Linked DNA regions of Homo sapiens: region 1 is linked to region 2. A link means that fine-mapping ties the variant in region 2 to the plasma level of a protein whose gene starts in the linked region. Region 2 holds a variant in brackets. A gene starts in the other region. All regions are shown on their forward strands.

What was found. PIP is the chance, under the fine-mapping model, that this variant and not a neighbour inherited with it causes the effect. The UK Biobank Pharma Proteomics Project read protein levels with antibody pairs (Olink). The fine-mapping took linkage between variants from a reference panel, not from the people measured, so its PIPs are less certain.
Region 1: LRPAP1 starts here. The variant in region 2 is fine-mapped to the plasma level of the LRPAP1 protein (UK Biobank, PIP 0.95).

What each region holds. Positions count from the first base shown.
Region 1 is chr4:3,529,582-3,535,097 of GRCh38, forward strand. It overlaps LRPAP1 (LDL receptor related protein associated protein 1), which reads right to left and starts at 2,841. Exons shown (of 8, transcript NM_002337.4): 1 at 2,628-2,841. The coding sequence starts at 2,831. RefSeq lists silencers at 2,331-2,580, 3,021-3,080 and an enhancer at 2,621-2,830.
Region 2 is chr12:123,740,871-123,745,870 of GRCh38, forward strand. ATP6V0A2 (ATPase H+ transporting V0 subunit a2) reads left to right here. Exons shown (of 20, transcript NM_012463.4): 10 at 2,915-3,065; 11 at 3,331-3,467; 12 at 3,727-3,914; 13 at 4,012-4,102. Among named protein-coding and RNA genes, the nearest start is that of DNAH10, 19 kb to the right of the region's middle. The variant T/A (reference allele first, on the strand shown) is at 2,883.

The DNA.
Region 1 (5,516 bases), not on the chromosome of region 2:
CTGCTCAGGAGTCTTGCAACACAGTGGAGCCCGCCTGTGAAAGAGGAACTGGGAGAGTCACAGAAAGTCAAGATTCAAGTTGCTGGAGAGGATGAAGCAGCACCCCCCTGGCCGGGTCTCGCCTGATGAAAGCGGGTCTCAGCATCTTCTTGGCGGCAACCTCAACGCAGGTCTCACAGCCCAAGCCCATCAAAGGCAAAGGTTTCCTGAAACGCTCCCTTCACCCTATGCCTACTGACACACTACGCAATCCTATATGCCAGGATGTGGCTTTACATGCAGAAAACAGGGACACGATGTTTTCATGAAGCAAACCAAAGAAAGGACAAGACCGTCCTGGCTGCTGAGCGCAGGTCGCAGGAGGCTGAGAGCAGTGGCTGCAGAGCCGGGCAGGAAGTGCTTCTCTGAAAAAGCAGCCCTCACCTCAATTATCTTCCAGGGGGCGATCCAAGACCCCGTCTCCGTCTGATACCTACCTAGAGCGGCGAGTCAGGTGGGGTAAGAAGCCGACTGGAGTGACTATTTGCACGAACAATTCTCTCCCCCTACGTTTGAACTGACTGTGGCTCCTCCTGCCTCCTGACCACCCTGGGCCCTGGCACGCTCGGCAGAAAGAGCCACAGCACAAAGACCACCCGGGATGCACTACCGCCACTGAGAACCTCAAAAAGACCCGGACGGGTCTGACGCCTGCACACTTGGCTCCAGGATAGAACACCCTCACAGCACCGCCACCCTCCAAGCTTCCGTTATCTGGAAGGAAAATCAGGACGAATGGGCTCTGCAGGCCTGCCTGCCATAGTACCAGGCTCTCTGGAATGGGGGAAGACACACAAAATCCCCCAAAACACCCTCACCCCCGAAGAACTTCACGTTCTGTTCAGCAAAAAAGACTTGCCCACACAACTAGAACTTCAGGACTTAAAGGGACCAGAAAGATCATCTAGTCCAAGGCTCAGTCCAAAGTGGAGGTGAGCAGCTCGCCCTACCATGGTGCCCAGTGAACCTCAGGGAGGTTTAGGAGACATGACCCAACCCAAGACTGAAACTGGTCAGGCGAGCACCCAGCACCGGGGGACAGTGCAGGGGCAGCCCGAGGGTAGCTGGACCAGTGCAGGGGCAGCCTGAGGGCAGGTGTATTGCTGCAGGAGGCCTGGGCTGACAAAGACAGAGGACCAGCTGGAGGTGGCTGGAGGTAAGGTGGAGCGCACCAGGGCGGCCCTGCAGAGCAGGTGGAAGACTTGGGCCAGCACCCAAAAGGGAGCCGCTGGGGTTCCTGGGTCCGAGTGCACTTCCTCAGCGCCACCTCCAATCGGTCAGGGAGTCTATTTCGGGCTCCCCATTCCTCATGGGGAGGGGGGACTCCACCCACTCAACAGATGCCCAGTGCAGTGGGCACGGGGAGGCAGCACTGCATCCCGGCTGCTCCTGGTCACACCTGTTCCCTGCTGCTGGGAGGCCATCAACACATCCAAACCCAGCCGTGTCCCCAGCCCCTCCAGAATCCCTTCCTCCAAGAAGCCGCCCTGCCGCTCCAGCCCAGAGCGTTCTCCCACCTCCCACCTCCGCAGGCTGAACATTACGCCTGGGGCTTGACTGCTGGTCCCAGGAGCAGTTCAGGAAGGGCCTGTGGAGCTGATGCCCAGGCGTCAATCCCCATCCCCACGCAGTCTTATAACCGTCTGTCGTCTGTCTGTCCCCCACCTGTTTCTCCTCTCCCTTTTCGTTCCAAAAGTTCCTTCTTATTCTGCAAATCACTTACTTTCCCTCTCAAAGACTCAGGAATGCTTAAAACTGGACTATTGAGACAGAGATCTAATCTGACTCCTGCATTTGAGATGAGATAATGAGGCCCAGATGGTCGGCATAGTTCGAAAACACCCATTTCAGGTGTTTTCAGGAACACCTAACAAATGAAGCAACCGTATCTTAATGAAGAGAGCAGCTGGCCCAGGGTCACGCACCAATTAGGAAGCTGTTGTCCCGGGGGGCCCCACCGGCCGAGCCACCTTGGGGGTGCCCTTTCCCCTCGGGGCCTCCGTACCCTCATCTCTCAAATGAAGGAGAGGTCAGGTGAGCGCCCTGTTAAGACTGACTTTCAGCATTCCCAAGGTCGCGTTTTATGTGCTCTAAACCGATCCCATCTCCTCACCTCCTCATTTCTCGCTCAAATGAACAAGCACGGGCTTGCTACTGGGATTCCTTCTGTCCCTGGACACGTCTTTCTACCCAACATTTTGTTTTTCTTGTTTCCCCACATAGGGAGATAAGGTTGAGGGAACAGGCAAAGGCTCGGGAGGCAGGAGACCTGTGATCTAGCCTGGTTCTGTCCCTACGCTCGGGTCAGCAGGCCGCCCAGGCTGGGGAGGGCGACACTGACCCTCGGGGTGCCGGCCGCCACCTGCTTCACACGGCGTCGTCGCCGGCACGGGTACCTTTCCTGCTGCAGAAGGGGTCGGGGCGCCCCACCTGACACTTGGGGGAGGCTGTGCCAAGGACAGGGCGCGTAGGGCACAGGTGCCCCGGCTGCGCCCCCCTCCGCCTCCGACCCCTGGGCCCCGCTCCAACGACCCCAACCACGGCCCCCGCCCCCAGGCCCCGCTCCACCGACCGCGGGCCGCGCTCACTCGCTGGGCCTTCTCCCACAGCTGGTTCAACTTCTCCATGCGGAACTCCTCTCCGGACTCGCGTTTCGGGGACGGCTTGGGCTGGTTCTTCTCCCGCGAGTACTTGCCGCCGTGGCTCGCAGCGGGCCAGGGCCCGAGGAAGAGCAGCAGCAGTAGCAGCGCCGGGAGCCCGCGCAGAAACGACCTGACCCTCCGCGGCGCCATCTTCCTCTGCGACTGGCGCTGCGCGGAGAAAACCTAGCCTGCCGATGCCCCGCCCACTACCCCGCCCCCACCCACCGCGCGGTCTCCTGGGAATTGTAGTTCCTCCGTGAGCGGCCGGCAGCGGCGAGGCCGCCGGCGGACTCCAGCGCCTAGGAAGCCCTGCGCAGGCGCAAGCGTTTCCCAGGCAACCACGCCGCGGCCCGAGGCTGCAGACTCTGGCAGGGGATACAACTGGAGAATGAGGGTGGCCGGGTGGGAGCAGGGATCAGGCCTCACCCAGAGCCCGGAGCCTGGAGCCCGCACGACTCGAGGCCTCTTTCCCTCTCTGCCCCACAGAAAGAGCGGAAAGCCCAAGAACCGGGCCGCGTTTGGCTGAGCCTGATAATGCTCCGGCTTCACGCGCACTGACGCCGACTCTTGCATGTCCAGTGCCGTTGCGGGGTTGGCACTGCGGCCCGGGCCTGGCGCTGAGGAGCCTGGCCCAGCCCGCTTCTGCCCTCCGCGGAGCGCCTGGCCGTGGGTAAGCCCAGGCCAGGTTGTCCCGGGGACGCAGGGCCGCGCAGACGTCCCCCTACGTCCCGGGGCCCCTGCCCCAACCCGCGTCCCAAGCGCCTGCTCTCGCGCCTGCTGCAAGGCAGGACTTCGCGCGCTTTTCCCCAACCCATGACACTCTAGGAAATTCACAGAGCCAAAGTTAGCATAGACCGCTCGTTGGGGGCTTGGCCAGTGAGTTGGGAAGTGCCCTGGAGGTAGCGCGGGAAACAAGGGGAAGGAGGGAGACAGACAGCAGCTGGGCCCCTTTGGGCTCAGAGAAGGGACAAGGGGAGCTCATCTGGCAAGAATGATCTGAAAAGGCCTCCAAGGGTGGGCGGGATTTTGCGGGGGGAGGGAGGAATTTCCAACTGGAGGGACAATGACAAAGGGGGTGAATAGAGCCTGGGCATCTTGAGAGGAATTAATGTTAATTCATTTCCTTTTTTTGCGTGGGGGGATAGGGTCTCTGTCATCGAGGCTGGAGTGCAGTGGCATGATCATGGCTCACTGCAGCCTCGACCTCCTGGGCTAAAGCGATCCTCCTGCCTCAGCCTCCCAAGTAGCTGGAACTATAGGTGCGTGTCACCACGCCCAGCTAATTTTTGAAATTTTTTGGTAGAAATTAGGTCTCCCTATGTTGTCCAGGCTGTTCTCCAACTCCTGGGCTCAAGCAACCCTCCCGTCTTGGTCCCCCAAAGTGCTGGGATTACAGGCGTGGGCCACTGGGCCTACCCTAATTTACATTTAAATTGTATCTTGTGTTGTTCCAGAGAAGATTTCAGGTCCCTGGAATCAAGGTGATCTGCTTCTGTCCTGTGCTGCTTTTCTAGTATTTTCAGAGCCATCGTTTCATTTCTTTTTTTCCAGCTGTTGAGTTGTTTCAGGCAAGAGGGTAAATTCAGTCTGTTACTGCATCTTAGCTGGAAGCACAAGTTCCCAATATGGGATGTATGGGGGAGAGGAGGTAAAGGAATCCCCCAGGAGGGTGGTGGAGGGAGAATGACCTCATGCGAAGTGACTCCAGAGACAGATCAAATGCTGTCATTGCCATCATTGCATGTTTTTAAGCCTCAGGACAGAATGGCCAGGTGAGCCTGGCCTAGATTCTCACCTGTGCCTGCCTTCCCCTTGTGTTCCCTCGTTCCTGCTCTTCTCTCCATCTCCTGGTGCCTAGAATCAGAGGTCACCTGTTTTACCCCACATACATGTTTTGCCCTGACCCCACTCCTGAGAGCTACAGGTAGGTCTTGGTGGGCTTAGAAGGGGATAGTCCAAATTGGCCTATCCCCCCCAAGCATGTCCCTGTTGGTCATCTGGAATGTGGTCCTAACTGCAAATGTTCCAGCTCTGTGAATCCTGCCCCCAGTGTCTCTAGAAAGGCCCGTTATAAACCCACAGGAATTGGAAGCTGGACTGGGAGCAGAGTCTTCTGGGATCCTGCATCTGACAGTGGTGTGGGGTTCTAAGAGCCCTTTTCCTATACAGCCCGGTTTCCCAGATAACTAAGCAATATTTTATTCGTGGCTGCATACACAGGCAATGAAACTAAAGAAAGTCAGGGGATGGCTAAAGGATGGAGGATACCTGGGCTGGGGGAGGAGGGAGAATGCGACGGGTGAACACAGACAGGCTTCCAAAGTGGTGTCCAGGTTGTAGTTCTTCACTAGGTGGTGGGCACACAGGCATGCATTTTTCCTTATCTTTAAATTGTACATATTTCATACACTTCTCCGTATGTATTATACATTTCAAACTAGTACATCTTCTAAAAAATCACAGTGGTTAATGCAATCAGTACAGGTGCCAGGCACATACCAGAGACTCCAGGTGACGGCATGCTCTCCTCTTGGGCTCCTCCTCTAGGGCTGAAAGTTTATTTCTCACCCCTGCCGCCAGCACCCGCCATGCCAGCCCGTGTCTCTAAGTGCTGAGGGGAAGGTGTATGAACAGAGACAGATACGGCCGTGGAGGAACCCGGAGGGAGGGCCCTCCACTTGGTGAGGACGGATTGTGAGGCTGGTCAGTGCTGAAGCTGAGTATCTTGCTTACGAGAGAAAAGGGGAACTGTGCTTATAGGACCATCTCTCAGAGCAAAACAAATTGAGTCTCTTGGGAAGCCTGGCATTGAGGATTGTCCAGCTTTCAGAAGTG
Region 2 (5,000 bases):
TCCTAATTCCTTCTTGAGTTCTGTTACCTCATTTCTGAGTCTTTTAAAATCTGATTCCTGGTGCTTTTTCCTGTCCTGTATTTTTTTTTTAATTCTTTTAACTCCTTTTGAAACAGTAAGTTACAATGGTTTTATTTGTTTTGTGGACATTCTTTCTGGCATCTTCTCACTGTCTGTGGGGATGGTATTCTACTCCTTGGCTTTTTTCTTCTTATGACCTTATGTAAGATTGGGCTTCTCCCTCCTCTTGCTCACTTTTAAATGAAATTAGACTTTTGAGGCTGGATGCGGTAACTCACGCTGGTAATCCCAGCACTCTGGAGGCTGAGGCGGGCGGATCACTTGAGTCCAGGAGTTTGAGACTAGCCTGGCCAACATGGCGAGACCCTGTCTCTACTAAAAAATACAAAAAATACACAATAGAAAAAAAATTAGCCAGGCATGGTGGCACGTGCCTGTTATCCCAGTTACTTGGAAGGCTGAGTCACGGGACTCCCTTGAACCCCAGAGGCGGAGGTTTAAAAAAAAAAAGATTTATGGAACATGGTGAAGATGCTTAGCTGCTCAAGGAAATTCATTTTTTAGACAAGGTCTCACTCTGTTTCCCAGGCTGGAGAACAGTGGTAATGGTCGTAGCTCACTGCAATCTCAAACTCCTGGGTTCAAGCAATCCTCCCGTCTCGTCTCAGCCTCCTGAGTAGCTGGAACTACAGGCATGCACTACTATGCCTGGCTAATTTATTTATTTATTTAGTTAGTTATTTATATTTTTTTGTAGAGATGGGGTCTCTACAAAAGACGGTGTCTGGTCTTGAACTCCTGGGCTTAAGTGACCCTCCTGTCTCAGCCTCCCAAAGTGCTGGGATGACAAGCATGAGCCACCATGCCTGTCCTGCTCAAGGAGATTCTATATTATTACACAAGCAATATAAATGTATATTTACATGAAAATAGTTTTCTGGCAGATGTTTATGGTACTCAAGGAACTTTTAGAAGATGGCAGGTTCAGGATAGCGATCCTAACCTCACTGATGGTTTTTTCTTTTTTTTATTTTTTGTGTACTGAATGCAAACACGTCGGGTCCTGGATCTGAGATGTCCTCTGTGTCTCTCTTGTGAACTCCTCTGTCTTTTCTCTTTCGTTCCTGTCCTGCTCAGTTTTGATCTCACTCCCAGCAGTTTCTCCTCAGCGTGTGGCCGCTCAACAGGGGAGGACCTGGCAGGTCAGTGCCGTGAGTTTAGGGACTGGGCTGCCCTGCCCCAACCCCTGCAGACTTCACTGCCCATGGCCCCTGTGCCGTCGCCTACTCTTGGACTGGACAGAACTCTTCCCAGTTCCAGCTGCTTTTTGTGGTTTGGCCTCCTCTGCTTTCCCAGGGAGGTTCTTTCTGGCCATTTTTGGTGTTGTTGGCCCAGGCCCCTTGGAGGCCACATTGCTTACTTGCATCCTCTGCTCTGGAGGCTGCTGGGTAGGTCTTGTAGCTGTTGGTGGTTTCCTCACCCATTTGTATTTTGGGGACTGTGGGGACGTGGTTTGGCTGTAAATGCCATCCGTAGGCTTTAGGTCTTGCTAGCTGGTTGCACTTTCTGTTCTGAAGGGGACTTGGGGACGTTCAAAGCTGTGCCACCCTCGAGAATTTCCCCAGAACCCCATTACATGCATACGTTTTAAGAGACACATTTTGGCCGGGTGCAGTGGCTCACTCCTATAATCCCAGCACTTTGGGAGGCCGAGGTGGGCAGATCACCTGAGGTTAGGAGTTCGAGACCAGCCTGGCTAACATGGTGAAACTCCGTCTCTACTAAAAATACAAAAACTAACCAGGCGTGGTGGTGTGCAATGTAATCCCAACTACTTGGGAGGCTGAGGCACGAGAATCGCTTGAACCTGGAAGGCAGAGGTTGCAGTGAGCCGAGATCACACCACTGCACTCCAGCCTGGGTGACAGAGCGAGACTCCTTCTTTAAAAAAAAAAAAAGACTTATTTTGACCAGAAAATCTACTATTCTGTCAATAACCTGTTTACCTTATTTTAAAAGTGTTTTCATTATAAATCAATATAATGCATTTCAGAAGAATTGCAAACACTGATGGATAAAGTTATATTTATGATTCTGCCATAATAGAATTCATGTTGACATTTTGGTTTATTCTTGCCTTTCTCATTTTTTTATTAAGTATATTGCAGTTGTCTCAAACTTCCTCTTTCTTCACCGTTTTTAAGAGATAAAGTACTCAGTGTCGGTTTTCTGTCAGTGACTGAGCCGACTCCATACCCACGTGCCCCGCATTCCCCAGCCCCCATTCACTTCCGGCGCATTCAGTCCTGCTCTCACCCTTCCTTCTTGGAGGCCACAGGCCCCAAGTGCCGCCCTTGCCACCCCCTGATTCCTCACAGATGGACTTTTCCTCCAGGCCCTCTGGCTGCTCTTGACCCTGTTGAGTGGAGATTAATCCTGCACCAAAGCCACACACACAGCGTTGCCAAAGCAGTAACACAAGGCTGGGCACGGTGCTCACACCTGTAATCCCAGCACATTGGGAGGCTGAGACAGGTGGATCACCTGAGGTCGGGAGTTCGAGACCAGCCTGACCTACATGGAGAAACCCCGTCTCTACTAAAAATACAAAATTAGACGGGCATGGTTGCATATGCCTGTAATCCCAGCTACTAGGGAGGCTGAGGCAGGGGAATCGCTTGAGCCTGGGAGGCAGAGGTTGCGGTGAGCCGAGATCACACCATTGCACTCCAGCCTGGGCAACAAGAGTGAAACTCCGTCTCAAAAAAAAACAAAACAAAACAACACCACCAAAAAAAACCAAAAAACAAAGCAGTAACCCAGATTCGTTGAATATGGATAGTTATTTTCTTCTTGGATAG[T/A]AATTTTTTATCTTTCCTTGTTTATGTGGAAGAGAGAGAGTGGTGCTACAATCCCCTCATTCATGAATATAATCCCCACAAAAGAAACACCCCCCACTCGGATCCGCACCAACAAATTCACCGAGGGATTTCAGAACATCGTGGATGCTTATGGAGTCGGAAGCTACAGAGAAGTCAATCCAGGTTGGAAGTCTGATTTGTAAATACCCGTATTTCCAATGGCATTGTTGCATTCTTGCTCTAAGAATGGAATAGATATTTGGAAAGAGAGGCTGACCATTACTTTTTTGCTATCTTATTTAAAAGTATAAGGTTTTAAATGTAACCACACAATCCTATCTTGTGAATTCTGGAGAAAGTCAAGATTGTTATGTATCATTGTGTTTGAATGAACTCAGGTTTTCCATATTTGCTGTGAATCAGAAATCTCTTTCCCTTTTTTCTGCAGCTCTCTTTACCATCATCACCTTCCCGTTTTTATTTGCTGTGATGTTTGGAGACTTCGGACATGGCTTTGTGATGTTTTTATTTGCCCTCTTGTTGGTGTTAAATGAAAATCATCCCAGACTAAATCAGTCACAAGAGGTAAAAATATAAACACTCCAGCTCATATATCTGGTTAGGTGGCATTAGCAGTGACCGAAAGAGAGACACCTCTTAGATGTTTGCTGTAGGCTGCGGCTGTGCTGGGCAGGTGTGTGGCCTGTCAGCTGCGGCTGACAGGGATGTCTGCGGGGCGAGGCTGTTTTCTGAGAAGTGAGTGGTGAGGGTCGTGCCCACACCGACAGCTGTCACATGGACACCCTCCAGTAACCATATTCTGCCCCCGCCTTGCCCTTCACAGATCATGAGGATGTTTTTTAATGGCCGGTACATCCTCCTGCTGATGGGGCTGTTCTCAGTGTACACTGGCCTCATCTACAACGACTGCTTTTCAAAGTCAGTCAACCTGTTCGGCTCTGGGTGGAACGTGTCGGCCATGTACAGCTCCAGCCACCCACCCGCAGAGCATAAGAAGATGGTGCTTTGGAAGTAAGTGTCCCATAGCTGGTGATGCTCTGGGTGGAAAGCATGTTTCCTAGACCTTCCTCCTCCCAGGTCAGCCTCCTCACTCTGCTTTTTGTTACAGTGACAGCGTCGTTAGACACAACAGCATTTTGCAGCTGGATCCAAGCATTCCTGGAGTGTTCCGAGGCCCTTATCCCCTTGGCATTGATCCTGTGAGTGCACCACGCTCTGTCGTTGTCTCTGGATGCTCTGTGGTGCCACCTAGCTTCGGGCGCCACGAGTTTCTCTAGACTGTTGAGCAGGGTTCACGCTGCCCTGAGCGGGAGGTGCTCATTAGCCCCTGTGCATCCCAGTCCCGGACACTGGGAGGGGAGGCCAGGAGCTGGGGGGCCCTCCGTTTGGGAAGGTGAGGTCAGAGGAAGTCCTCAGAGAGCCAGGGCTGTGTTCTGTCATGTGTCCTACCTATTTTCCTCTGGCTGAAAATGGCACTTCAGTAGCCCTGAAATGTGTGCCATTTCCTACATTTCTTCCTCGTATATGTGAACTTTTAAAAACCCTTGATCTCGAAAGAAATGGTATGGAGTGTTAGAGCTGAAAGGAAGCGTGAGGTTATTATGGTGCTTATTGGGGTAGTTGTTTGGAATGGGAAAAGTGTTAATAGAAAGAAAATGGGGAAGTACTCACGCCTGTAATTCCAGCACTTTGGGAGGCCGAGGCGGGCAGATCATGAGGTCAGGAGATTGAGACCATCCTGGCTAACACGGTGAAACCCCATCTCTACTAAAAATACAAAAAATTAGCTGGGTGTGGTGGCTGGCGCCTGTAGTCCCAGCTACTCAGGAGGCTGAGGCAGGAGAATGGCGTGAACCCAGGAGGCGAAGCTTGCAGTGAGCCGAGATGGTGCCATTGCACTCCAGCCTGGGCAACGGAGCGAGAGACTCTGTCTCAAAAAAAAAAAAAAAAGAAAATGGAGAAGTAGCCCCAGGGTGCCAGGACCCCCAACCCCTTCGAGGGCTCAGCAGGCGGTGGCTGAGGCAGTGGACTGCAGGGTTGGGTGGGGTTTTCCTGAGCTGTCAGGAGTCTTTCTGGAGAATCAAAAGAATGACTGAG